Homo sapiens: one gene and its partners. The protein of the gene in region 6 purifies or fractionates together with the protein of the main gene of each other region. This does not show direct contact. Each region holds a gene or a part of one and is shown on either strand. Other genes may lie near its edges.

Region 1 (3,527 bases), on a different chromosome or scaffold from region 6:
AGCTTACTACTACCAAGCAATTATAAATCCTTCTCAAAATAAACTATCATTAAAATTCTTGGGACAAAAAGTCACAAAGAAAATTAATATGACAAGTAGAAAAATCATGAATGAAAGAACAGTTAAAAAAAAAAAAAGGCCCATGAATGAGGCATGTACTGAGCCTGAATGTAATAAAAGAACTTACTATCATCTCCCAGCTTAGAAGCATATTCATTAATTAATTCTTCTCCAACTTCCACAATTTGCTCACTATTTCTTGAGTTTTCTTCTCTCCATTTTCTCATTTTATCTCTCATTTCTGAAAAAAATAACATGACATTTAAGTGTATATGTACCCAGACACACACATACACATCCGATAGATGTCAAAAACCTGACAAGACAAAATCAGCTTTTTAGGTAAGGAAAATAAACTCACAATCATGTAGAAGTCTGTGGTATCTCAAATTTGATAAAGTAGAAAATTAATTGAACAAGGGCAACAGATCCTTTAGAAGACTGAAACAGCATTACAACTGGTATTATGACTATCTTTAGAAGTGATGAATGGGCCAGGCACGGTGGCTTACATCAGTAATGCCAGGACTTTGGGAGCCCAAGGTAGGACAATCACTTGATCCAGGAGTTCAAGACCAGCCTGGCCAACGTGGCGAAACCTTGTCTCTACTAAATATACAAAAATTAGCCAACTATGGTGGCACACACCTGTAATCCCAGCTACTCAGGAGGCTGAGGCAGGAGAATCGCTTGAACCCAGGAGGCAGAGATTGCGTGAGCCGAGATCGTGCCACTGCACTCCAGCTTGAGTGACAAAGCAAGACTTTGTCTCAAAAAAAAAAAAAAAAGGCAGCATGGTGGCACCCGCCTGTGGTCCCAGCTACTCAGGAGACTGACGTGAGAGGATCACTTGAGCCTGGAGGTTGATGCTGCAGTGACCTGTGATTGCACCACTGCACTCCAGTCTGAGCAACAGAGCAAGACCCCTGTCTCTTAAAGGTTGAAAAAGGAGTTCAACAGGCATATAACAAAGTAAGTTATCCTATACAGAAAGAACTACTGGTAGCTGGGAATTAAATAAACACACTAGGATCAGGAAATGAGTGTATAAGAAGTAAGAAGAGTGAGTTTCTTGGAAGACTTTTATTTCATACTAGAGAACTTTAAAGTTTGTTTTTAAAGGTACAGAAGAACAACTTAAAAATGCTGAGCAAAAGAAAAGCAACACAATCATGGCTGTCTGACAGGAAAATCATTCTGGTGCAAAAAAAAAGAAACCACTAGAATTTTAAATTTTATATGTCAATTTTAAAAATAAATAAATTTGAAACCAAAACAAAAAGCCCCAGAAGATAAACTGGAAAGGAGTAAACAGTTCAAAGAAAAGAAACTGGTTGTATTAGTCCGTTTTCCCACTGCTGATAAAGACGTACCCGAGACTGGGCAATTTACAAAAGAAAGAGGTTTAACTGGACTTGCAGTTCCACGTGGCTGGGGAGGCCTCACAATGATGGCAGAAGACAAGAAGGAAAAAGTCATATCCTACGTGGATGGCAGCAGGCAAAGAAAGAGAGCTTGTGTAGAGAAACTCCTGTTTCTAAAACCATGAGATCTTGTGAGACCCATTCACTATAATGAGAACAGCATGGGAAAGACCTGTCCCCATGATTCAATCATCTCACAGTGGGTCTCCTCCTCAACACATGGGAATTATGGGTGCTACAAGATGAGATTTGGGTGGGGACACAGAGCCAAACCATATCACCAGTCATAGAGGACGTATAGTATACTGGAAAGAACATGGACTTGATACACTTGGTTTGAATCTAAACTCCATCTTTTACATGACCTTACATAACTTACCGAATCTGTACTTAGTTTCCAATACCAATGAATAGAGATAATATTACCTTTAGCTCAGGGATGAGCAGTTAAGATTACATAAAATATATATAAAGTTGCTTGGTTCGTACAATAGTTTGGATATTTTTGTTTTTAAGTTGATTTTGATTACCCTTAGATAAGGGTATACACTTACCAGTTCTTCACAGGCACCACTATTGTCTTTCACCCAACTACATGTATTTTCATCTGCTTGGCCCTTGAGTTTAGGACACCAAACACTAGAAAATTCGTGTAAAGCATTTTATAAAATGTGAAGCCCTACAAAAATTCTAGTTACTTTTATTTTTTAAAAAAATCTGGTAACTGTTTCAGCCTCTCACAAGAAATAAAGGCTCTTCCCTCACTCTTTCCTCAAAGGTGGCTTAAAACTTTCATTTTACCCTTTCACCTTCCTGCAAAAAGCTCGCTCCTCAAAGCCAAGGTCATTTTATTACATACTATGTAAGTAAGCTTCTCACTGCTTGCTTGTACATTTTATTAACTACTGTGCAATCCTGTGAGATGAGCTAAAGGTCAAAGGTTAAGAGAGTCGCTATGATTGTTCTGTTTATTCCTTCCATGACAACTTGCATGAGATGTCACTGCAGTGAGGTGGCCTCTGAAAGATGGAAAAATATGCCTGCTACTTAATTATGATTTCTTTAGTCCAAAACTACTTCCTCCAATCCTGTATCTTTTCCACTTCATTTTTTTATATATTCGGAAATACCACTTACAGATTCATTTACATAAACCAGCATATTCTTTTAAAAGGTTGATAATTACAGGATAATAAATTTTAAATTATTCATGGTCCCATAAAAGTATCTAGTCAGATTGGCTGCAGGCTGTTGGGAACAGCTATTCTAAAAGAAAAGGCAACCTGATTTGAAAAAGGAAAGGGTTAATTTATTTTAATGCACACAGAGCTCCAGAAGACGTATTTTTCAAACTGTGTATTACAATCCATTAATAGGGTATAAAATCGGTTCAGTGGATTTCTTCCAGCATCTGTTGGGGGTGGGGGGGCAGTGGGGGAGAATGAAACAAAATGAACAGAATGGAAGCAATACTCATTAGAATCCTTTGTAAATGCAACTTTGGTTTCAGTTTATACATACACTCAAAGATTCATGTATAGGTATACTTAATTGAGTATGAGTTAATTTGTAAAAGGTGTTTCTTATTGTGAAAAAACACTCATAGGAAAGAGAACTTTTTTTAAAGCATAACTTCTAAGAACGGCAGTCTGACACACAGTCACATATTAAAATATAATAGCTGAACACAAAACAAGAAACACTGTGTATGAAAATATAACTTACAAAACAAGCAACATTTTACCTATAAACACCTTAAGCTATACACCTTACATAGCTGACCCTGCCACACTCTTGAGTGCTGCTGTAATAAATACATTTGTAGCACTATTAACCACATACTACTTTTAGAAATGCCTTAAATACATTTATCTAAAAAAATTATTTGTAAAAATAAAACCATCTTGAAGAAAACATGTTTTCACCTTTGATAGCTCATTACCTCAAAATCACAGCATCCGAAAATCAAGTCATCTTCATTTCCTAAAAATATGGCCTCCCTTCCCAATGTTCACATTTCTGTTAATTCCACCTTCTGTTAAT
Region 2 (2,860 bases), on a different chromosome or scaffold from region 6:
TTCTAAAATTTGAAAGTAGGATCTTGAAAAGATATTTACACATTCATGTTCACTGCAGCATTATTCACTATAACCAAGAAGTGGAAGCAACCCACGTGAACATCAACAGCATCAACAGAATAACAGGCCAAGCGCGGTGGCTCACGCCTGTCATCGCAGCACTTCGGGAGGCCAAGGCAGGTGGATCACTTGAGGTCAGGAGTTCGAGACCAGCCTGGCCAACATGACGAAACCCTATCTCTTACTAAAAATACAAAAATTAGCTGGGCATGGTGGCACTTGCCTGTAATCCCAGTTACTTGGGAGGCTGAGGCACGAGAATTGCTTGAACCCAGGAAGCAGAGGTTGCAATGAGCCAAGCTTGCACCACTGCACTCCAGCCTCGGTGACACAGTGAGACCCTGTCTCAAAAGGAAATCCTGTCACATGTTACAACATGGATGAAACCTGGGGACATTATATTGAGTAAAACAAGCCAATCACAAAAGGACAGTATACTTTATAATTCCACTTATATGAAATATCAAGAGTAGCCAAAATCATGGAAACGTAAAACAGCATGGTGGTTCCCAGGGCCGGATGGAGAGGGGAATGGGGAGCTGGTCAATGGCTGTAGAGTTTCAGCTCTGCCAAATGAGAAAGACCTAGAGATCTGTTGCACAATGCTAACACTATGCATCTGGAGAGGGTTGGGGGGTTAAATTTTATGTGTTTTTCATCACAATGAAAAATTTGTAAATGTTTTCAAACTTAAGTGCCTAGTGAAGTGCTTGGAGTGCAGTAGCTGCCCTAGGCCCTCTGTCTCCTCTTCCATCCTGGGAACAGCAGCAGCAGCAGCAAACACTCAAGGCCCCTCACCCACCGTGCTGGAAACTGTGTGGGGAGCAGATGCTCAGAGTGAGCCACGGAGGCGGGAGGACCCAGCAGCAGGCGGGGGCTTGCCCACATGGCCACAGGTGAGCTGCTCGGCCTCTCGGCTTTGGTGCCTGCCTCTTGGAAGACTGAGGGGATAAATTGGTTACTAATAGATGTCATATAGTTAAGTAATGCAATGGAAAAGGCCATCTTCCAACGAGGTCCTCCCTTCTCCACCTTCAACACTGCTTGTCCCTGGCCAGCAGCCTTAGTTTAAAGAGTGCCGGAGACTAGGCTCCATGACAAGGCGACAGAGCCGGGGCACAGGCTAAGATGAACCATGAGGCCAGCTCCCTCTAATGGACTACAGCAGCCAGGCAGGGGCCACAGCAGTCCCGCTAGGGCCTCTGAAAGCACCAGGACACAAGGCATGACCCTCTAGAGCGGCCTCTGGACCCCAGGACTTCATTCCACCAGGAAAGAGCTAAGCATGACTTACATTAACACAAGCATCATGAAAGTGAACCAAGGAGGGAAAGACATGAAAAGCCAGAGGTAGGCTGTTTCTACATTTTTAAATACACTTTTCTACATTTAAATGTCACAGATACTTAGACTGCACTGACTTGACAGATAGACTAACAGCTACGAAGCACTTGTTGCAAATGGCTTGTTACTAAAAATGCTTTCAAAATATATAATAGGCCGGGCACAGTGGCTCACGCCTGTAATCCCAGCACTTTGGGAGGCCGAGAAGGGTGGATCACCTGAGGTCAGGAGTTCGAGATCAGCCTGGCCAACATGGTGAAATCCCGTCTCTACTAAAAATACAAAAATTAGCCAGGCGTGGTGGTGGGAGCCTGTAATCCCAGCTACTCAGGAGACTGAGGCAAGAGAATCACTGGAAGCCAGGAAGCAGAGGCTGCAGTCAGCCGAGATCGCGCCACTGCACTCCACCCTGGGCGACAGAGTGAGACTCTGTCTCAAAAAAAAGAAAAACAACAACAAAAAACAAGAACCATATAATAGAAGCGCCTCCCACCACCCTGTGTCCTCCCATTCCTCCCTGCCCCGTCCCACCTTCCCCAGAGACCTCCCCTCTGAATGGCCCTCACCTTGTGAGTCATCAGCAACTTAAAGACACTAGAGAGAAGGCTGGACACATGAAGCTGGAAAAACAAAATAAAGGCTAATGCAGACCACCGAGCCTTCCAGAACCGCTCATTTCCCACCACCCCCACACTCTCAGCCCCAGCATCCCACCCCACTCCCCCGCCAGGGCACACATACACCAGTCAGCACAAAAGGGACCATCTGACAAACTCTGAAAGGACTCCTCCAGCACAAGCCCAACTCCACCTCAAGACTCGGTCACAGAGGCCTTTGGAAGACAAGCCTTTGAGCCCCACCCACCCCATCCCTGAAGCAACCACAAAAATCACACCTGCCTATAATCCTAGCACTTTGGGAGGCCAAGGCGGGCGGATCACTTGAGGTCAGGAGTTCGAGACCAGCCTGGCCAACATGGTGAAACCCCATTTCTACTAGAAATATAAAAATTAGCCGGGTGTGGTGGCGGGTGCCTGTAATCCCAGCTACTCGGGAGGCTGAGGCAGGAGAATCGCTTGAATCCGGGAGGTGGAAGTTGCAGTGAGCCGAGACAGCATCACTACACTCCAACCTGGGTGATACAGCAAGACTCCATCTCAAAAAAATTTTTAAAAAATCACACCTGGATAGACTATCAGCAGGGCCAGCGTGCCAGTGGCCACTCCTTGTCTGACCCATTCCTGCTAATGTGGCCATGAACTTGGGGATAAAACAGTCACATTTGCTAGAACTGTGTATAAAATACAAAGCAGGCTCTGGCTTGGGTTTAAATAAGGGACATGCGCATTGGGCACATCATTTGGCTGCTTGGAGACCACAGTCCTCCCTCCCTGTATGCTTGGCTGTCCCCAAATGAACAGCGACCCCTGGATGAGGAAGGAGCTGCAGCCTCCTA
Region 3 (3,527 bases), on a different chromosome or scaffold from region 6:
CTAATTGAAGGTTGTAAAGCTCTGGTGCCAAGGTTTTGCTTCCAAAGAGCTAATTTATGACTAGAAGGATATTTTATGTCTTCAGTTGCAGCAACTACAAAATTCAGCAAATCAGAACCATCTGTGCACTGATACTTGACTCACCATTCATCTAGCAGCCTATCAGTCACATTAGTTTGCATCCCGCATTCTTGGCTCATGAACACGTGTGATGATCCAAAGTTCATAAGAAATATTAAAAATGAATAGCATCCTGACCCTATCTTACTGTACATGCATCAGGAAAAAAATGCCCTCCACACTCTATTTGTGCATACGGATAGTGGTCAAGGAAGACATGGATGCTGAGTTGCCTGTCCACTATTCTTGCTAATAACGGCAGTCTAAGATTTCCACCACCCGCTTAAAAATGCTCGAAATCTTAATTTTTTTTTTAAGTTGGTGTTGGTCTTTGGGAAGATGGCAGACTAAAAGAAGAGGTGTAACTTTTAAAAAATGATTTTTTTTAACCTAGATCTCTGGCATAAACTCTTTTATTTTCTGTAAAGAACTGTTTCCATGGATTGAAATATCAGCACATACAAATAACCTGGTTAAATCGAAGACTGTTATCACCAAATTATGGCCAAATTGGTAGGCAAAAACACAGGGCAATATCTAAAGAAAACCTGGAGAAAAGAAGCAAATGATGGCTTTCTCATGAGTAACATCAGATTAGCCTTTACCCTAGTCACATCTCTATGACAGTAGTGACTGCTTTCTTTCATAGTACATAGTAGGCCACAGATCCTATTTTTCTCTGTGAGACAACAGGTCAAAAGAACTTGGAACAAACTTTCTTGGTGCTGAGTTAGGCAAAATGGGAGTTAAATATAAGGAAGAAGAAAGCTGTCAGACTCATTTTGAGACCTAAAACAATTTCATTCGATAGAAAAGTATCATAGAAGGTAATCATAGGATAGCAGGGATTATGTTACTTACTTTTTGACTGTTTGGAGTATGGACATTTATACTCTGTCCTTTTGTGGAAAAGTCCAGTGGTCCTAAAGGTATTCCATGAGGGTTCAAAATTTTCTTGAGGGCTTGATAGTTTGGCTTTTCATCATATGCTAAACTATGAGCACATACCAAAAATTGGGCTATTTCACCTGTGAATTATTAAATTTTTTACATGTCATTCACAATTGGCAAGAATTGTCAAGACTCCAGTAATCTCAAAATCTTTGTTATCTTTGTCTTTTACACATTTACATCTCCTGAAGAAACTAAAAATGAACAATTCAATGAAAATAACTTTTTAAATGATATTCAAAAATGACTGAAATATAGTGACCTACAGAATTGATGAGACAAACTAGTAATGTTTTTAACATATTTTTGTTGATACGCTTATAATTCACTGATCTTATGAGAGGAAGTATATTGTAATAATTATAGTGATTTTGATTTATGAGGTGCAACTATTAAGGACTACATAAATAATACAACTGACCATACTTCACACTTTATGCTGAACTTCTAAAAATTCAGTTAAAGTGTTACTTATTATAAACCTCTTTATTTCTAAGGAAAAAAACTGCAAATTTTAATTAAGGCTTTGATTTTGGGATTATAACCGTATATTTAGAAAGGACCTTGAATTCCATGTTGTTAGCTAAGATTGAATTTAGAATGTATGAAACCTCCCTCATGTCCTCCATACCTAGCTAGCCTGGTACACAGCCTCGTGTTTTTGATTTTAGAGCAGTGGGAGGAGGAGTTGCCATCTTTTATTTTTTCTCTAGTGTAAAGAAATGTTCCCCTAGAACTACATAGTAAACCCCCTTTCCCCAAAAAGGTTAGGAACTACCAACTTTTAAATACAAACAGAATTAGTAACCAACAGTTACAAACATCACTGCATTAAAATATTTGTAGCTTGCATTTCTGTTTCATGTTGAGGTTCAACCTAAAATTGGAATAGAAGTGGTGATAATACCAAATACTATTTAAAAACTGGCATGTTTTCATTTGTTCACAGAGATGTTTAGATATGCCTTTCCCTTTCAAAAATATATTACTGACTCAAACTCAAGTACTTCTTACTTTCTCACTTAGTTGCTTATATCCATGGTGGGAAAACCTGGGAAACTTCATGCGTTGGCAGGAGTGACTTCCTAATCCTTCACTTCCCCTCTAGGCCTACCTCCACTCAAAAGAAAGGAAAACTGCAGAGGCACTGGGTTTCACTCCCTATAGAGAAAAATTTCAAAAGGAATAGTCATCATCGCTTTCCCCCTATTAAAGTTAAGAGTGACCACTTTCACCATATAGTACAGAGCTATTTCCTGGGAACATGAAGCTAACGTGGTTAAAATGTAAACTCTTGGTTCTGGGCTTTTCTTCCTTGACACTGTAGCAATTATGCAACCTGTTTTTTTCATCTATTTTTATCAAATTCTGTTATCTAGCATTCGGTCAACCAGATCTCTGTTAACTAGCAAGTGCTGCTATTTTATCACCATATTTATAACTGATGCTTCATGCAGCCCCTTCACAAGGGCTCGGGGGTATCCAATTTCTAAAGGGATGATTAAAAAATTAAATTACATTCACTACTATTTTAATATAAATATTTTTGTTTTATGGTCCTGTGAAGATTGGTAAGCCAAGTTTGGTACATATTACAATTCCATTAACCAGAATATCCAAAATGAGGAAGAGAGTTGAATGTGCTGGGAACAAATCACTGTTACAAGACAATGGAAAACTCCTGGCACTCCACCAACTGATAGCAGCTGTGCTGCAAAGCCTTCATGGGACTGGGGTTTGGAAAAATGAGGTACCAGTGAGGTAGGAGGGGGAGAAAATAAAAAGAGCCATTTCCATTATAAATTTATTATTACAAACCTGAAGCGTAGATATTGTGATGTAATACTGGTTTAAATGTTAGTCTTTCAAGATCTGGATTTATTAAGTACATTTTAAAATTTACTAGCATATTGCCAGAACTATAAAGCAAAATGCCTTTAGTATGAAATTATGATTTTTTTAATCATCTGCTTTTTAAGCCAGTGAAGTATTAAGTATCATTACTATCAAGAGATAGAAACTTTTGAAACTATTATTATTATGCTTAGTTGGACATGTATGCTGCAAACTTCTGGCTGTTTTATTTCATAAAATGTTTCGGTAATAAACTTTTGTAAATCAGTTCCTTCATTTTCATGGTTGTGTTCTTCCTAAGCACAACCTCCTAATTTAAGAGACCTTCATGTAATATTAAAGTTTCAACACTTTTTGCTTTAGAAACAGAAATCTGCATTTTATAAATAATAGTATGGATTCAATAAAATGGTTTGTGCTAAGAAACAAAAACTGGGCTTGTCTCCCATCTAGATTACTCATCTGACTCAAATCTTTAACAATAGAGTATGACATAATATACACTGCCCACAAGCATTTGTCTTGTACAATTCAGGGCATCTGGGCTTTCTTACCCTAAACTGAACAGTTCCTTTTTCTGCAGGATTGACAAGAAAGGTAAG
Region 4 (3,527 bases), on a different chromosome or scaffold from region 6:
GAGTGCAATGGCGTAGGCTCGGCTCACTGCAACCTCTGCCTCCCCGGTTCAAGCGATTCTCCTGCCTCAGCCGTCCAAGTAGCTGGGATTACAGGCACCCACCACCACACCCGACTAATTTTTGTACTTTTAGTAGAGATGAGTTTCACCACGTTGGCCAGGCTGGTCTCGAACCCCTGACCTCAAGTGATTCACCTGCCTCAGCCTCACAAAGTGCTGAGATTACAGGCGTGACCCACCGCCCCAGGCCTCTGTAATTTCTTAATGATGTCTTTTCTGCCACTACCGCCCTGCCCCCGCCTTGGGGGATCTAGGGCTCAGGGCCAATTGGGTAGAACCCCTGGAGGGAAAAGGGGTATCTAGGTTGCTGGGCTGGCCCAGAATCTGGCCACCACAATGTAGAAACTCAGGCCCTCATTTCAGCAGGCCTCCAACCCCACCGCACGCCCCATTCTGTTCTAGCTCACTGAAGCCACAGGCTGAAACAGGGGGCTACATCTCCCAGCAAGCTGTAACTTCAGAAGGCGAGGTGCCCAGAGTCCTAAACAACAATCCACAGACTATTTTCCATCATGGTATGGGGAGTTTTGTTTGTTTGCTGTTTTATTTTTTCTGAAACAGGTTCTAGCTCTGTCATCCCGGCTGGAGTACAGTGGCACGATCACGGCTCACTGCAGCCTCGACCTCCGGGCTCAAGCAATCAATCCTCCCGCCTCAGCCTCCTGAGTGGCTGAGACTACAGGCATGTGTCACCAAGCCCAGCTAATGTTTGAAATTTTTGTAGAGACGGGGGTCCTACTATGTTGCCCAGGCTGGTTTCAAACTCAATCTCCTGGGCTCAAGCGATCCTCCTGCCTCAGCCTCCCAAAGTGCTGAGATTACAGGCATGAGCCACCATGACGGCCCTGCCATCATATTCTGATCTAGGACTCCCTTTCTCTCAACGTCCAGGCCGTGGACTTCCCCAGCAAGCCCTGACTCCCGGGCAGACTACGCCAAGTCCACCGCCTAAGACTCCCTCCCCGGCACCACTGATTTACTTTCGAGCCCATTAACTAGCACGCCAGGGGTCGAGGACTTCGTTTCCCAGCATGCTCAGGAACACGAACTCCATTCCCCAGAATGCTCTGCACCTGGGTCCTACTTAGGGTTTGAAACCCTCAGGGGCACGATTTCTTCGCGGAACTCCATTTCCCAGCATCCCTCAGGAAAGAAGGCTTCCCTCCCAGCATGCTCTGGACGCCGGACTACATCTCCCAGCACGCTCTGGGCCGGCCGGCTCTCACCTGGGAAGGGTCCTTGCAGCTGCTGCAAATTCCCTAGAATTTTCTGGCTCAGTAGGTGGATAAGGCGGGTCACGACCTGGGGGCGTTGGAGGCCGGCATTTCAGTGAGACCTGGGAAGCGGCTGTCCAGGTCCCACCTCTCCCTCCTATGCCGGGGCTCCTGGGTGCCCGTTACCTGGGTCCCACCCCCGAGAGCCCCCGCCCTCACTCTCTCGCTTCGGCCCCTCCCTCGACCCCGCCCCTCTGTAAGCCCCGCCCACACACTAGGCCCGGCCCCCACCCCCCCGGAGTCCCGCCTCCGCCTCTCTGCCCCGCCCACAACAGGCCGCACCTGCGGGTACCGGCGTTTGATGTGACCCAAGGTGCCCTCGGGAAGCTTGGCCAGCTCCGTGTCGCGCACCGCGTGCACCGTCGTGGCTCGCGGCTGCCGGGTCAGTGCCTCCACCTGGGGGGCCGCGTGCATGATTGGGGCTGCTTGGGTGGGGAATGAGGAGGCCGAAGATGGGTGGAAAGGGGGCTGTACTGCCCCATCTAGGGCTCCCCTGCAATGGGGGTGTAGGGAAGCAAGCCTCGCTCGCTACCCATTAGAGCTCTGGGGAGAGGGAGAGGACAGGGATCCACGACAGGCGGAATCCCCTTTTTCCAACGAAATGAGGTCTGGGCGGGGAGTGGACTGGGTGACCTCAGAGGTCGGGAGCTGCATTCACCACTCCCTGGATTACCCGGGATGATGTGTGTGAGTTGTCGAGGGACTGGCCTGGAAAAGGCCAGAGGTCAGTGGGTGGGGGTCGCGCTCACCACGCCGATGAGGTCGCCGCGGCCGTACTCGCCCACCAGCTCCTTCTTGCCACTGCCTCGCTGGATCACGCTACGCAGCCGCCCATTGAGCACGATGTAAGTGCAGTCGGAGCGGTCGCCCTGCCTGAGTGGGCGTGGAGGTCAGCAAGGTCTGACCACCCCCAGGTCCCCACCCCTAGGCCGGGCCTGAGCAGCGCGGTGGGAGCTGCACCTGTACAGCGCGCGTCCCGCCTCCACTGCAGTCCAGTCGATGGCGAAGTCCATCTGGCGCACGAAGGGCGACATCCTGGCTGCCACCGTGTGCGCCGCACTCAGCACCACACTGGGCTGTGCGCGCATGATCCTGCAGGAACAGACTTGGGATGAAAGAGGAAGGCCTCAAAACCGTCCTACACCGGCGCTGGGAGGCCAGATCTGGGGGCTCCCTTCTGCTCTTCCAGGAGTGAGGTTGAGGGATGGGGTTCTGGCCACTCCCACGGGTTGGGGTCCTCCGAGTGCCACCCACACTCCAACTTCGGGCTGTCATACTCATAGAAGTCGGACTTGGAGATCCGCAGGAAGGTGCAGTCGCGTTGGGCTCGCAGTGTGAAGATGAGAGGTTCGCCAGTGAGCACCGCCAGCTGCCCCACCAGTTCCCCGGGCTGCGCTACGAACAGGCACACGTCCTCCGCCTTGTCGATCATGCGCTGGTACACGTGCAGGCAGCCCCAGAGCACGAAGTGCAGGCTCACGTCCTGTGCGGGCAGGGGATGTGATGAACACAGAACCCGGACAGCGTGGACCCCAGCTCAGGTCAACATGCCCCCACAGGAAAAAATTAAAGAAGAAAGGAAGGGTTAAGAAAAATATGAAGGCGCAGGGCGCGGTGGCTCACGGCTGTAATCCCAGCGCTTTGGGAGGCCAGGCAGGGGGGATCACTTGAGGCCAGGAGTTCGGCACCAGCCTGGCCAACGTGGCGAAACCTGTCTCTACTAAAATAAAAAAATTAGCTGGGCGTCGTGGCACATGTCTGTAATTCCAGCTACTCAGGAAGCTGAGGCAAGAGAATTGCCTGAACCTGGAAGGCTGAGGTTGCAGTGAGCTGAGATCATGCCATTGCACTCCAGCCTGGGCGACAGAGTGAGACACTGTCTTTAAAAAAAAAAAGAAGAAGAAGGCCAGGCGCGGTGGCTCACGCCTGTAATCCCAGAACTTTGGGAGGCCGAGGCAGGCGGATCAAGAGGTCAGGAGATCGAGACCATCCTGGCTAATACAGTGAAACCCCGTCTCTACTGAAAATACAAAAAATTAGCCGGGTGTGGTGGCGGGCGCCTGTAGTCCCAGCTACTTGGGAGGCTGAGGCAGGAGAATGGCGTGAAACCGGGAGGCGGAGCTTGCAATGAGCCAAGATCGCGCCACTGCACTCCAGCGTGGGCGACAGAGCGAGACTCCGTCTCAAAAAAAA
Region 5 (2,745 bases), on a different chromosome or scaffold from region 6:
CAAAAAGTACCAGGCCATTGCTTCTAACAGTAAGATCTATTTTGGCAGCAACATCCCTAACATGTTCGTGGACTCCTCATGTGCTTTGAAATATTCAGATATTAGGACTGGAAGAGAAAGCTCACTCCCCTCTAAGGAGGCTCTTGAACCCTCTGGAGAGAACGTCATCCAAAACAAAGAGAGCACAGGTTGATGCAAGAGGTGGAAATGTTCTCCATATCAAGATGTGGCCCAAGGGGTTAAGTGGGAACAATCATTATACGGACTCTTCAGATTTACAGAGAACTTACACTTCATCTGTTCCACCTCTCCTGCGATAGTCCTGGGTGCTCCACTGATTGGAGGATAGAGCCAGCTGTCTGACACACAAATGGTCTTTTCAGCCACAGTCTTATCAAGTATCCTATATGTATTCCTTTCTAAACTGCTACTCATGAATGAGGAAAGTCTGATGCTAAGATACTGCCTGCACTGGAATGTTAAACACTAAATATATAACAAGCTGTGTTTTCCTAAGCTGAGATCTGTTGAATAATGTTTACATTCGTCCCCCGGGGAAATGTATGCTCAGCCACCATTCAAGAGATGACTGAGAAGGAGATGGTAAGTTCAAGAAGACTGATTGCACCTGGGACCCAGGCCCTTTCTTTGGGATCCAGTCCCAGCCTTCATCCATGTGATTAAGATCCAGGCCGCTGAAGTTCCCCAGGAAATGATCTTCCACTTGAGCAACCTTTTACTTGATACGATTTGCACCTTTCTGTTTTCCTGCAGTCAGGGTGGTGGCCTGCAGGGACCTGAGCTTTGCTACCCAACCAGATTCCTCATAGAGATTCCTAATCACTAGTTTCTTGTATTCATAAACTCAGAGATACAGAGGGCTTGGTTTGAAGTTGGGGTGAGATGAAACCTTTGCTCTGAGCCAAAGCTCTGGGGCCTTGCATTCCCTGCATTGGGTTGATGACTGTCAGCATCACTGCCGCAGGCCATGCTTGACTAAGGTACCTGGTTTTAGCCACAGCCACCTCCTTGTATGTTACCTTTCAGCTCTGGCCAAGAGTGGGACAGGGTTTTAACCACAAATAGGAGCAGCATGCAATTCCTAGTGACTTGCTGCACAGTATTGTATCATAATTACAGGAAGTTTTTATTTTTAAAACTGGATCTGGGGTATATTCATTTGCCCCATCACCTCTGTCTAAAGGCCCAAGTCCTAGGGCTGCCATGGTCACAAGCACACTGATGCTCCTTAAGATTGTTTATCTGGAGCCCACATAGTGTGGAACAAAAAGTCACCTAGAAAGCATCCTTGGTCATCATTGTCTCCTTCCCACCTGGCCCAGAGATGCTTAAATCCAAGTTGTTTCTCCAGCTGTCACCTCCCCCAGGAGATCAGGATTCCACTGACGTCCTGGGCAGCCAGTGAATTTAATTTTCCATGAGAAACAACAGAGTTAACCTGTGGCATTAGGAGACCTACTTCATGTGGACCCTTTTTTTCCTTCAGTTTAACTTTTCTGGAGCAGTGTGCTGCGTAGTTCGGCCTGAGTTTGTGCAGCTTGTTAAGACAACTCTTGTGTACGCTATGTTGAAGCTCAACAAAAAAGTCATGGGACCACTTCTAGAAATCTTTCAGCTGTCAGGCCTGTCAGTCTCATGACAGTTTGTTGGTTGTGCCAAACACTTTATTTGGGAAAGGAAAGCCCAGATTTGAATGGGTCTTTCCCCTGGGCCTTATCCTATAGAGGCATTTGTAATATGGAGAAAATAATTTTTCATTTTTGCTCATTTAATTCTATAAATTCTCTTTATAAATGAATTTTGTGTTCTTTAGTTCTCCTTAAAAGAACTTTTGAATTATAAAAATAAAATCTTTACCTGTCGAATTGTTGCTGCAGATGATTGTTGTGGAAAATCTGGATCATTGACCTCTGTGCTTTCATTCCTAGAGATGTTTTATAGTTACATGAGCAAAAGCTGTTGCCCCAAAGTGATGGCCCTGGAGGCGGGGCTGAGGAACAGGGAAATGCCGCTGTGAAGTCTTAAAGCACTTCTGCTTAAACTCCCATGTGTGAGGAGTGTGCCTCCCTGTGCCCTCTCAGCTCTGAGGCTGGCCGTCTTTCGGGGTGTTCCTTTTGGCAAATATACACTGTAATCTTGAGTCTAAATTTATATGTTGAAATGCTACCTTTTTTAAAATAAGAAACTAAATAAAATTATTTTACTATCAGTGATTTGTGTTTTTTTTTCCCACGTCTTCATTTTTCTGTCATCTTAACATGCTCCTAAGGCTGTCTTGCACATTTCAACTAGGGAGCCAGTTTATTTGCGGGTTTAACTTAACTGTAGAGGCTTTTGTTATACTCTTGCCAGAATACTGCCTACCTGGTATAAGAATGTTTAAAACAAGGTGTCCACTCTTTGCTGACTCCTGGAATTTAACAAGGGGTGTTCTTCTAATCCTTTGTGGGACAGGGCCTGTGGCAGAGGGGCAAGGAGGGAGGATGGAGCATCAGGCCACTGGGATCCGTCCCTGAGAGCAAAAGTACTTCTGCACTGAGGAGGGGAGGAGACAGACCAAGCCAGAGAAGGACAATTTGTGTAAATTATAACTGGTAATGTAATGGCACAATATAACCAACTTGACTATTAAGATGTTAGCGGCCCAAGAGCCAGAGTTGGACCTGCTCTTCCCAAACGTTCTGTATTTCCTCCTGGGATCAATTTCCTGGTGATCTTGGGCCA
Region 6 (3,395 bases):
GAAAGTCTCAAAAATCTGTTGCTGTGATTTTTACATCTTGTGTTTTTTGAGACAGAGTCTCGCTCTGTCACCCAGGCTGGAGTGCAGTGGCACGATCTTGGCTCACTGCAACAACTTCCACTTCCTGGGTTCAAGTGATTCTCCTGCCTCAGCCTCCTGAGTAGCTGCGACTACAGGTGCATGCCACCATGCCTGGCTAATTTTTGTATTTTTAGTAGAGACGGGGTTTCACCATGTTGGCCTGGCTGGTCCTGAACTCTTGACCTCAGGTGATCCACCCACCTTGGCCTTGGCCTCCCAAAATGCTGGGATTACAGGTGTGAGCCACTGTGCCCAGCCCTATTTTAAAACTGAATTTCTTCAAGCATCTAAATCAGAGGCTGGCAGAAACTTTTTCTGTTAAGGCCCAGATAGTAAATAGCTGTTTACTTTTTATGGGCCATATGATCTCTGTTGCAACGCCTCAGCTTTGTCATTGTAGCAGGAAAGCAGCCACAGACAGTAAGCAAATGAATGAGCCTAGTCATGCCAATAAAACTTTATTTACAAAAAAAGGCAGTGGGCTGGACTTGGTTCAGGAGCCAGCTGTAGTTTGCCAACCCCAGGCCTAAAGAAAGCTGGAGAGGAATAGCTTACACCCAGAAAAGAACCTCTCAGTGAGGGAAACAGACTAAGAATAGTATCACACTACAGCCTTCTACCAACAGATGATACTTTACTTTAAAATACAAAACAAAATTAGCTCAGCCAGTTAGTTGTTTTATTTTGAGTTTTGTTTTTTTAAAAAAAGAAAAGCTTTGAGAAAATGTGTTAAATATCAGTAAAGGGCAGGAACACACATGGCTAGCTTTACAATAGCAATCTAAACATACACAAAGGCAAACATTGAGTAAAATGCTAGGGAAAGACGGCACTTTGGGGGCCTACTGCAGTTTTCCTTATTGCACATAAAGGTTGTGGATAACGCCAAGTCTTTAATTTTTCACAGTTATACTTTAATGTCATTTTATATAACGTTTATTTATATAACATACTATAATGTTAATTTTATAAAACCACCAGTTTGCTACTGTTGAATGGAAATAGAAGACAAAATTCTCCCCAATTACACTATGTAAGCTCTCTATAAAAAGTTCCCTAGAAGGTCACATCATTCCATGTTAAATTCGTCCTATTCTATTTTAAAAGTTGCTTTTCAGCTATTAAATGAATCTTTATGGCCTTCTCATTTAACCATTTTCATGGACATAGTACAACTTTCCAAGTAAAAAGTACCAGATGTATTTTATGTGAAAAACAAAAGGACAACTTAGGAGGAGCTGGCCCTACTATGAAGTCACACTTTGAACGATCAATTTCAGTGGTAAATTCCCAATCCATAGACTTAACACCCACACAACTGAAAATCATCCCTCTGCTTCTCCAAAGCCCACAATTGGAATAATCACAACACAAGTCAGCCCCTAAATGTCCATGCAGTTAAGTCATCCAGTAACACCTGAATTGTAGCCTTTTTTAAGTGCTTGAGACAGCAGATGTTGAGGTTTCCATGCTGTTTACAAGTCCTTTTCTATCTGAGTTCCTCCAACATATACAGGCCCAGACAATTTTCCACTGGCCAAGAGCTGACTGTGACACTTGGTGATTCTGTTAAGCCTTTTGAAAGGTGGTCATCAGAAGGAGAAGGTGACTTCTGCTGTGTGCGCTCCTGTCTGCTTTGGACCTTTTCAAAGGGCAGCACAGCAGGCAGCCCTTCCTTCTCATCTTCTCCAAGGCTCAGGTAGCAGAAAACCGGCTGCCTGTGTGTTCCATATGGGCCACGACTATAGTATACCCTGCTTACAAAAATAAGACTAACATCAAAAACTTTGGTTTTGCTCTTTACAATTTTTGCTAGCACTGGGTGACAAGATGTGTTTAATTTTTTAAAAATGTCTATGAAAATTGACACTGGAAAAAACTGTTTATCTCTAGGTCTTGTTTTGAAAGGATTGTTGATGAGTCTACTTGCTTTTCCTAGTTAAGACACTAGCAATGGTTTCTACAGTATTTCTCTATATGTTGTTTTCAGGTTTTAGAAAGGGGGATGATCTTTTCAGGTATCAAAGTGGTAAAAGCAGTATTCAGATGGGTTGTTTCTAAACTACAACTCTTGGCCACTAGATTCCTTTGACTTACTGTATCAGAATGTAGCAGCCGACACTGGCAATCCAGAGTGTCAGTTAAAGAACAACAGAATAGCTCAGAACTCAATGATACCAGTCTAATGTATATGAAAGACTTGTTCCTGAACTAATTAATCTATAGAATCAACATCAAAAGGCAGACAAGAAACTTGTCAAGTTCCCCACTTTTGAAGTGGAATAAGAAGTCATATACTTGTGAGATCAGCAGGCTGACTTTCTAGCAGCCCTCATTGCAGATAATCTTTCACAACAGATGGTAAAATCAGCTTTCTGATACACTCTTAGAACTCACAACGGGTGCACAGTAGGTTTCCAAGTGGGTGATTTTCACCTCTGATGAGATGCTCTAACACCCTGCCACTGTTTTTCCCCCTAAGTGCATCAGTGGTGTTTCTACATTTGGAAATTACTTGTTCACATTAAACATCTGGTATGATTACATTAACTTCTACTGCAGACAAGGACAGGGAGAGATAGGATGATGGGATGACGTCAAACAGACCAACAGACCTCTATTTTGGAAGGAACTGTTAGTTCTTTGTCCTAGACCGAATCGTTCATGGATAGCTGAGATACCCTTTTGCATGTTTTCTAAAGAGATTCCATTTGTCAGCCAAACCACAGAGGACATTTTCGGGTCTAGAGAACACAGCCTGAAGAGATCCTTGCTGTTTGCTTGATGAAACATTTGATGTCGCAGTGTGATTTCTGCCTTCCAGGCATCAATGCTTATTTGTCTGATCACCCCAGTAACCACCCTGGATGCTCGGATCCATATGCCCTTCCTGTGATTGTGTCCTAGGAAGAAATGTGGCCTTATTTAAATTCCAAATTTTCTTCCCTAGGAGAGAAAGTTCAGGTTTCTGGTAGTTCTCAAAAAGTGTACTAAAAGGAATAGCAGCTTTCATCTTCTCTCTGTCAGGGCTATACAAAAGTGTGCATCTCCTTAATTACCTGCTACGGAAACCACCACCATCACCATGTGATAGCAAAGGACCACAACCTTCTACTTTGCTCCAGCAGTAAATGGGCCCACCCTTATTCTGAGGAATCCAGTGTGGACTCAGGCATGAGGATAGGTGAAGGAAAAGAAAATCTGACTCCAGAGGGGACTATTAATTTAATTCCAGGTGAAATTAAAAAAAAAAAACAAAACAGCTTCCCAGAAACCTTCATGCTTGATTAGTTAGCAGCTCAGTTAAGACAATA
Region 7 (3,294 bases), on a different chromosome or scaffold from region 6:
CAGCCATGCTGCCCCGTGGCCTTTGGTTACCAGGAGGCTGTCTGGGCAGGACAAGAGGAGCACCTATCTCAGGTCCACAGTCCGCCAACAAGCCCAGCTAATTTTTTGTCATTTTTGTAGAGATGGGGTTTCACCATGTTGCCCAGGCTGGTCTCGAACTCCTGGGCTCAAGTGATCCTCCTGCCTCAGCCTCCCAAAGTGCTGGGATTACAGGCCTGAGCCACCGCAACCGGCTTTGGGTCCACAGTCTTCACAGTTCCCAAGGCATGTTCACCTTGGTTTAGCCTTACTGTGGCCTTGTGGGTTCAGGGTTACCATCCTCATTTTACAGATAGGGACAGTAAGGCTGGCAGAGAGGCCTGTCCTGCCCCAGGTGACAATTTCTCTAGGATCCTGAGCCTTGCCCTGGTCCTACACGCCCTTGGGGACCTCCTCAGGAGGAGGAGCCAGGGGCAGTGGTGCAGAAAGACTACCCAGGTGTATGATGTCACGGACAGGCAGGGAGGTTTTGGGGGCATTTATTTCCGATAGAGACTGGCACAAGCTTTGGGCTAAGGACACCCGCCCCCACCCTCATCTAGAAACAATCTCTCTCGCCAGACTTGATGGCTCACGCCTGTAATCCCAGCATTTTGGGAGGCCGAGTCGGGCGGATCACAAGGTCAAGAGATGGAGGCCATCCTGGCCAACATGGTGAAACCCCATCTCTACTAAAAATACAAAAATGAGCTGGGCATGGTGGCGTGTGCCTGTAGTCCCAGCTACTCAGGAGGCTGAAGCAGGAAAATCGCTTGAACCCGTGAGGCAGAGGTTGCAGTGAGCCAAGATCGCGCCAGCCTGGCGACAGAGTGAGACTCCGTCTCAAAAAAAAAAAAAAAAAAATAGTAAAGAAAAGAAACAATCTCTCTCAGGGTCCAGAAGCTTCAGGGCGTGTCCCAGCTCAGGCTCTGCAGCCTGGGCCAGGGAGGAGGTGGAGGGACACGTGGGCCCCTCTGGAACCCCTCAGGAAGCCCCCTCGGCAGGAGTGCTGAACGCGAGGTGCGTGGTGTATCTTCTCACACTCCCTGCCTCCTCTGGGCCTGATAGGGAAGTGCTCCTGCAGCTGTTGAAGCTTGGGAGGGGAGGAGAGAGGGAGAGATGATGGATGCTGAAGAAAGGCTCTGGCCGAGATCCCACAGCCATTGGCTAGCATGCTCTGACCCATCGCATAGGGGAAACTGAGACTCCACTGGCTGGGCAGAATTAACCAAAGGGACTGAGGCGATTCCTTCAAACCTCACAAATCTAGCTCATTGCTCCTGCTCCCCATCACTCTCCCCCTCCACCCTCCACACCTCAGGACCCCGCTCAAACATTATCTGCCTGTCTCCCCTGATCAAAACCCACTCCCGGCTCCCATAGGCTGCAGGATACAGCCCAGTTCCTCAGCTAGGCACCTGGGGCCCCTGGCCTGGCCTGGCTGCATGCACCCCTCCTGCCCCTCCTGCCCCCACACCTCCCCACCCCCTTTTTAGTCACTCCCTCTCCCCCTCCTCCCCAAATCCCAACAGGGCTAGGTCTCCCCTTTTCTCTAGGAAGCCTTGTGGACACTCTCTGTGCCCCAGGCTCAGGCACCTGAGCTCTGTATGAAATCCTGACACCCCCCCCTTTTTTTTTTTAAATGGAGTCTCACTCTGTCACCCAGGTTGGAGTGCAGTGATGCAATCTCAGCTCACTGCAACCTCCACCTCCCAGGTTCAAGCCATTCTCCTTCCTCAGCCTCCTGAGTAGCTGGGATTACAAGCACGTGCCACCACACCCGGCTAATTTTTTGTATTTTTAGTAGAGCTGGGGTTTCACTATGTTGGCCAGGCCGGTCTTGAACTCCTGACCTCAGGTGATCTGCGGGCCTCAGCCTCCCAAAGTGCTGGGATTACAGGCGTGAGCCACCGCACCCGGCCTGTATGGCGTCTTGAGGCAATGCTCAGAGCTTGGTGTGAAAGCAATTCACCTCCTCCTTGGGCGCCTCCCCGACTGGGGTGTCCGCAGGCGGCACCCACTTGCAATCCCAGATGCTGCCACCAGGGGGTGCACAGTGCCCGCTTGGAAGGTGGGCAGGGGCGGGCGGGGAGGAACTAGAGAGGGAGGGGTTAATGCCCAAGGGCCCCGCCCCTCCCAAGAGGCATGGGCGGTCTCAGCCCGGTCCACTCACCAGGTGTATATGAGCACAGCCAGGAGGACCGTGAGGAGGACGGCCAGGAGGATAGACAGGATGGCGATGATGACCACGGTGCCCGGGCTCTGGGGGCCGGGGACAGCCCGAAGTGCCTGGGCTGAGGGCAGTGATGGGGGCCGCACAGGCGGGCAGGAAAAGAAATTTTACCTGACCGGAAGGGGCCCTTGGGCAGAATCCAGACCAATCACCGCCCTGCCTCCCCTACTACCACCCAGGCCTGGGGGAAGGGGGTGGCTGGGGGAGGGGCGCCTGCAGATTGCAAGATGGTTGGCTGCCTCTGACTCAGTGGTGAGCTGACCTGTTCCCCCAGCCCATCCTCAGTCCTCAGGACCCCCAGGCCCCAGCCCCCTGCCCCTACTGTTTGACCGGAGCCTCTGGCCCCTACCTTGCTGCAGGCGAGTGTCGCTGGACCACTTGGTTTCAGCCACGGGTCCTTCGTCATTCATCACCAGGAACTTCACCCTGAATGGGAGACCCAGCATTGGACATGGGGGTCCCCCGGAGTCCTGAAACCATCAGACTTGGTGCCTGCAAGTCTGTCCCCTGGAGTCCCAGGCCCTGGCGAGAGCAGCCCGGGGAGGGGGCCGGAGGCTGGGGCGAAAGAGCCCAACAGAATGGGTTCAAATCTAGGTGTGACATTTCCAGTGGTGTGACGTCCCTCCCCCTCTCTGGGCTTCTGTGTCCTCATTTGGGAAAGGTAGAGGGCGAGTATTAGATGTCTCAGAACTGAACATGCGTGAATCAAGCATTTAGTGAGGGGAGACCCTGTCTGGATGGAGAGACGCCACCTGAGTGGTCCACACAGCCTGTGGGGACTGGGGCTTGAGGTGGGGAACCTTCTGCTCAAGAAAAGCAGGATAGGCCAGGCATGGTGGCTCACGTCTGTAATCCCAGCACTTTGGGAGGCCAAGGTGGGCCTTCAAGATCACTTGAAGCCAGGAGTTGAGACCCGCCTGGCCAACATGGTGAAACCTCATCTCTACTAAAATTACAAAAATTAGCCAGGCATGGTGGCAGGTACCTGGCCAACATGGCGAAACCCTGTCTCTACTAAAAATACAAAAAGTAGTCGGGTGTGG

Evidence for each region.
Region 1: the proteins of SLC9A7 (region 6) and EMC2 purify together in Homo sapiens (affinity purification with mass spectrometry; one large-scale study listed by BioGRID and IntAct). This does not show direct contact.
Region 2: the proteins of SLC9A7 (region 6) and ADCK2 purify together in Homo sapiens (affinity purification with mass spectrometry; one large-scale study listed by BioGRID and IntAct). This does not show direct contact.
Region 3: the proteins of SLC9A7 (region 6) and VRK2 purify together in Homo sapiens (affinity purification with mass spectrometry; one large-scale study listed by BioGRID and IntAct). This does not show direct contact.
Region 4: the proteins of SLC9A7 (region 6) and PNPLA6 purify together in Homo sapiens (affinity purification with mass spectrometry; one large-scale study listed by BioGRID and IntAct). This does not show direct contact.
Region 5: the proteins of SLC9A7 (region 6) and ERLIN1 purify together in Homo sapiens (affinity purification with mass spectrometry; one large-scale study listed by BioGRID and IntAct). This does not show direct contact.
Region 7: the proteins of SLC9A7 (region 6) and UPK3BL1 purify together in Homo sapiens (affinity purification with mass spectrometry; one large-scale study listed by BioGRID and IntAct). This does not show direct contact.

What each region holds. Positions count from the first base shown.
Region 1 is NC_000008.11:108,446,597-108,450,123, reverse strand, and holds part of EMC2 (ER membrane protein complex subunit 2), read right to left. Parts: intron 302-3,527; coding exon 188-301; intron 1-187. UniProt on the Homo sapiens protein: Part of the endoplasmic reticulum membrane protein complex (EMC) that enables the energy-independent insertion into endoplasmic reticulum membranes of newly synthesized membrane proteins.
Region 2 is NC_000007.14:140,689,924-140,692,783, reverse strand, and holds part of ADCK2 (uncharacterized aarF domain-containing protein kinase 2), read right to left. Parts: intron 2,025-2,860; coding exon 1,971-2,024; intron 1-1,970. UniProt on the Homo sapiens protein: The function of this protein is not yet clear. It is not known if it has protein kinase activity and what type of substrate it would phosphorylate (Ser, Thr or Tyr).
Region 3 is NC_000002.12:58,137,287-58,140,813, reverse strand, and holds part of VRK2 (serine/threonine-protein kinase VRK2), read right to left. Parts: intron 1,149-3,527; coding exon 982-1,148; intron 1-981. UniProt on the Homo sapiens protein: Serine/threonine kinase that regulates several signal transduction pathways.
Region 4 is NC_000019.10:7,549,197-7,552,723, reverse strand, and holds part of PNPLA6 (patatin-like phospholipase domain-containing protein 6), read right to left. Parts: intron 2,818-3,527; coding exon 2,612-2,817; intron 2,427-2,611; coding exon 2,295-2,426; intron 2,208-2,294; coding exon 2,084-2,207; intron 1,731-2,083; coding exon 1,617-1,730; intron 1,363-1,616; coding exon 1,287-1,362; intron 1-1,286. UniProt on the Homo sapiens protein: Phospholipase B that deacylates intracellular phosphatidylcholine (PtdCho), generating glycerophosphocholine (GroPtdCho). This deacylation occurs at both sn-2 and sn-1 positions of PtdCho.
Region 5 is NC_000010.11:100,149,579-100,152,323, reverse strand, and holds the end of ERLIN1 (erlin-1), read left to right. Parts: coding exon 1-193; 3' UTR 194-2,230; downstream 2,231-2,745. UniProt on the Homo sapiens protein: Component of the ERLIN1/ERLIN2 complex which mediates the endoplasmic reticulum-associated degradation (ERAD) of inositol 1,4,5-trisphosphate receptors (IP3Rs).
Region 6 is NC_000023.11:46,598,728-46,602,122, forward strand, and holds the end of SLC9A7 (sodium/hydrogen exchanger 7), read right to left. Parts: 3' UTR 524-3,395; downstream 1-523. UniProt on the Homo sapiens protein: Golgi Na(+), K(+)/(H+) antiporter. Mediates the electoneutral influx of Na(+) or K(+) in exchange for H(+). May contribute to the regulation of Golgi apparatus volume and pH.
Region 7 is NC_000007.14:102,636,523-102,639,816, forward strand, and holds the end of UPK3BL1 (uroplakin-3b-like protein 1 precursor), read right to left. Parts: intron 2,678-3,294; coding exon 2,601-2,677; intron 2,313-2,600; coding exon 2,192-2,312; intron 1,112-2,191; coding exon 1,003-1,111; 3' UTR 503-1,002; downstream 1-502.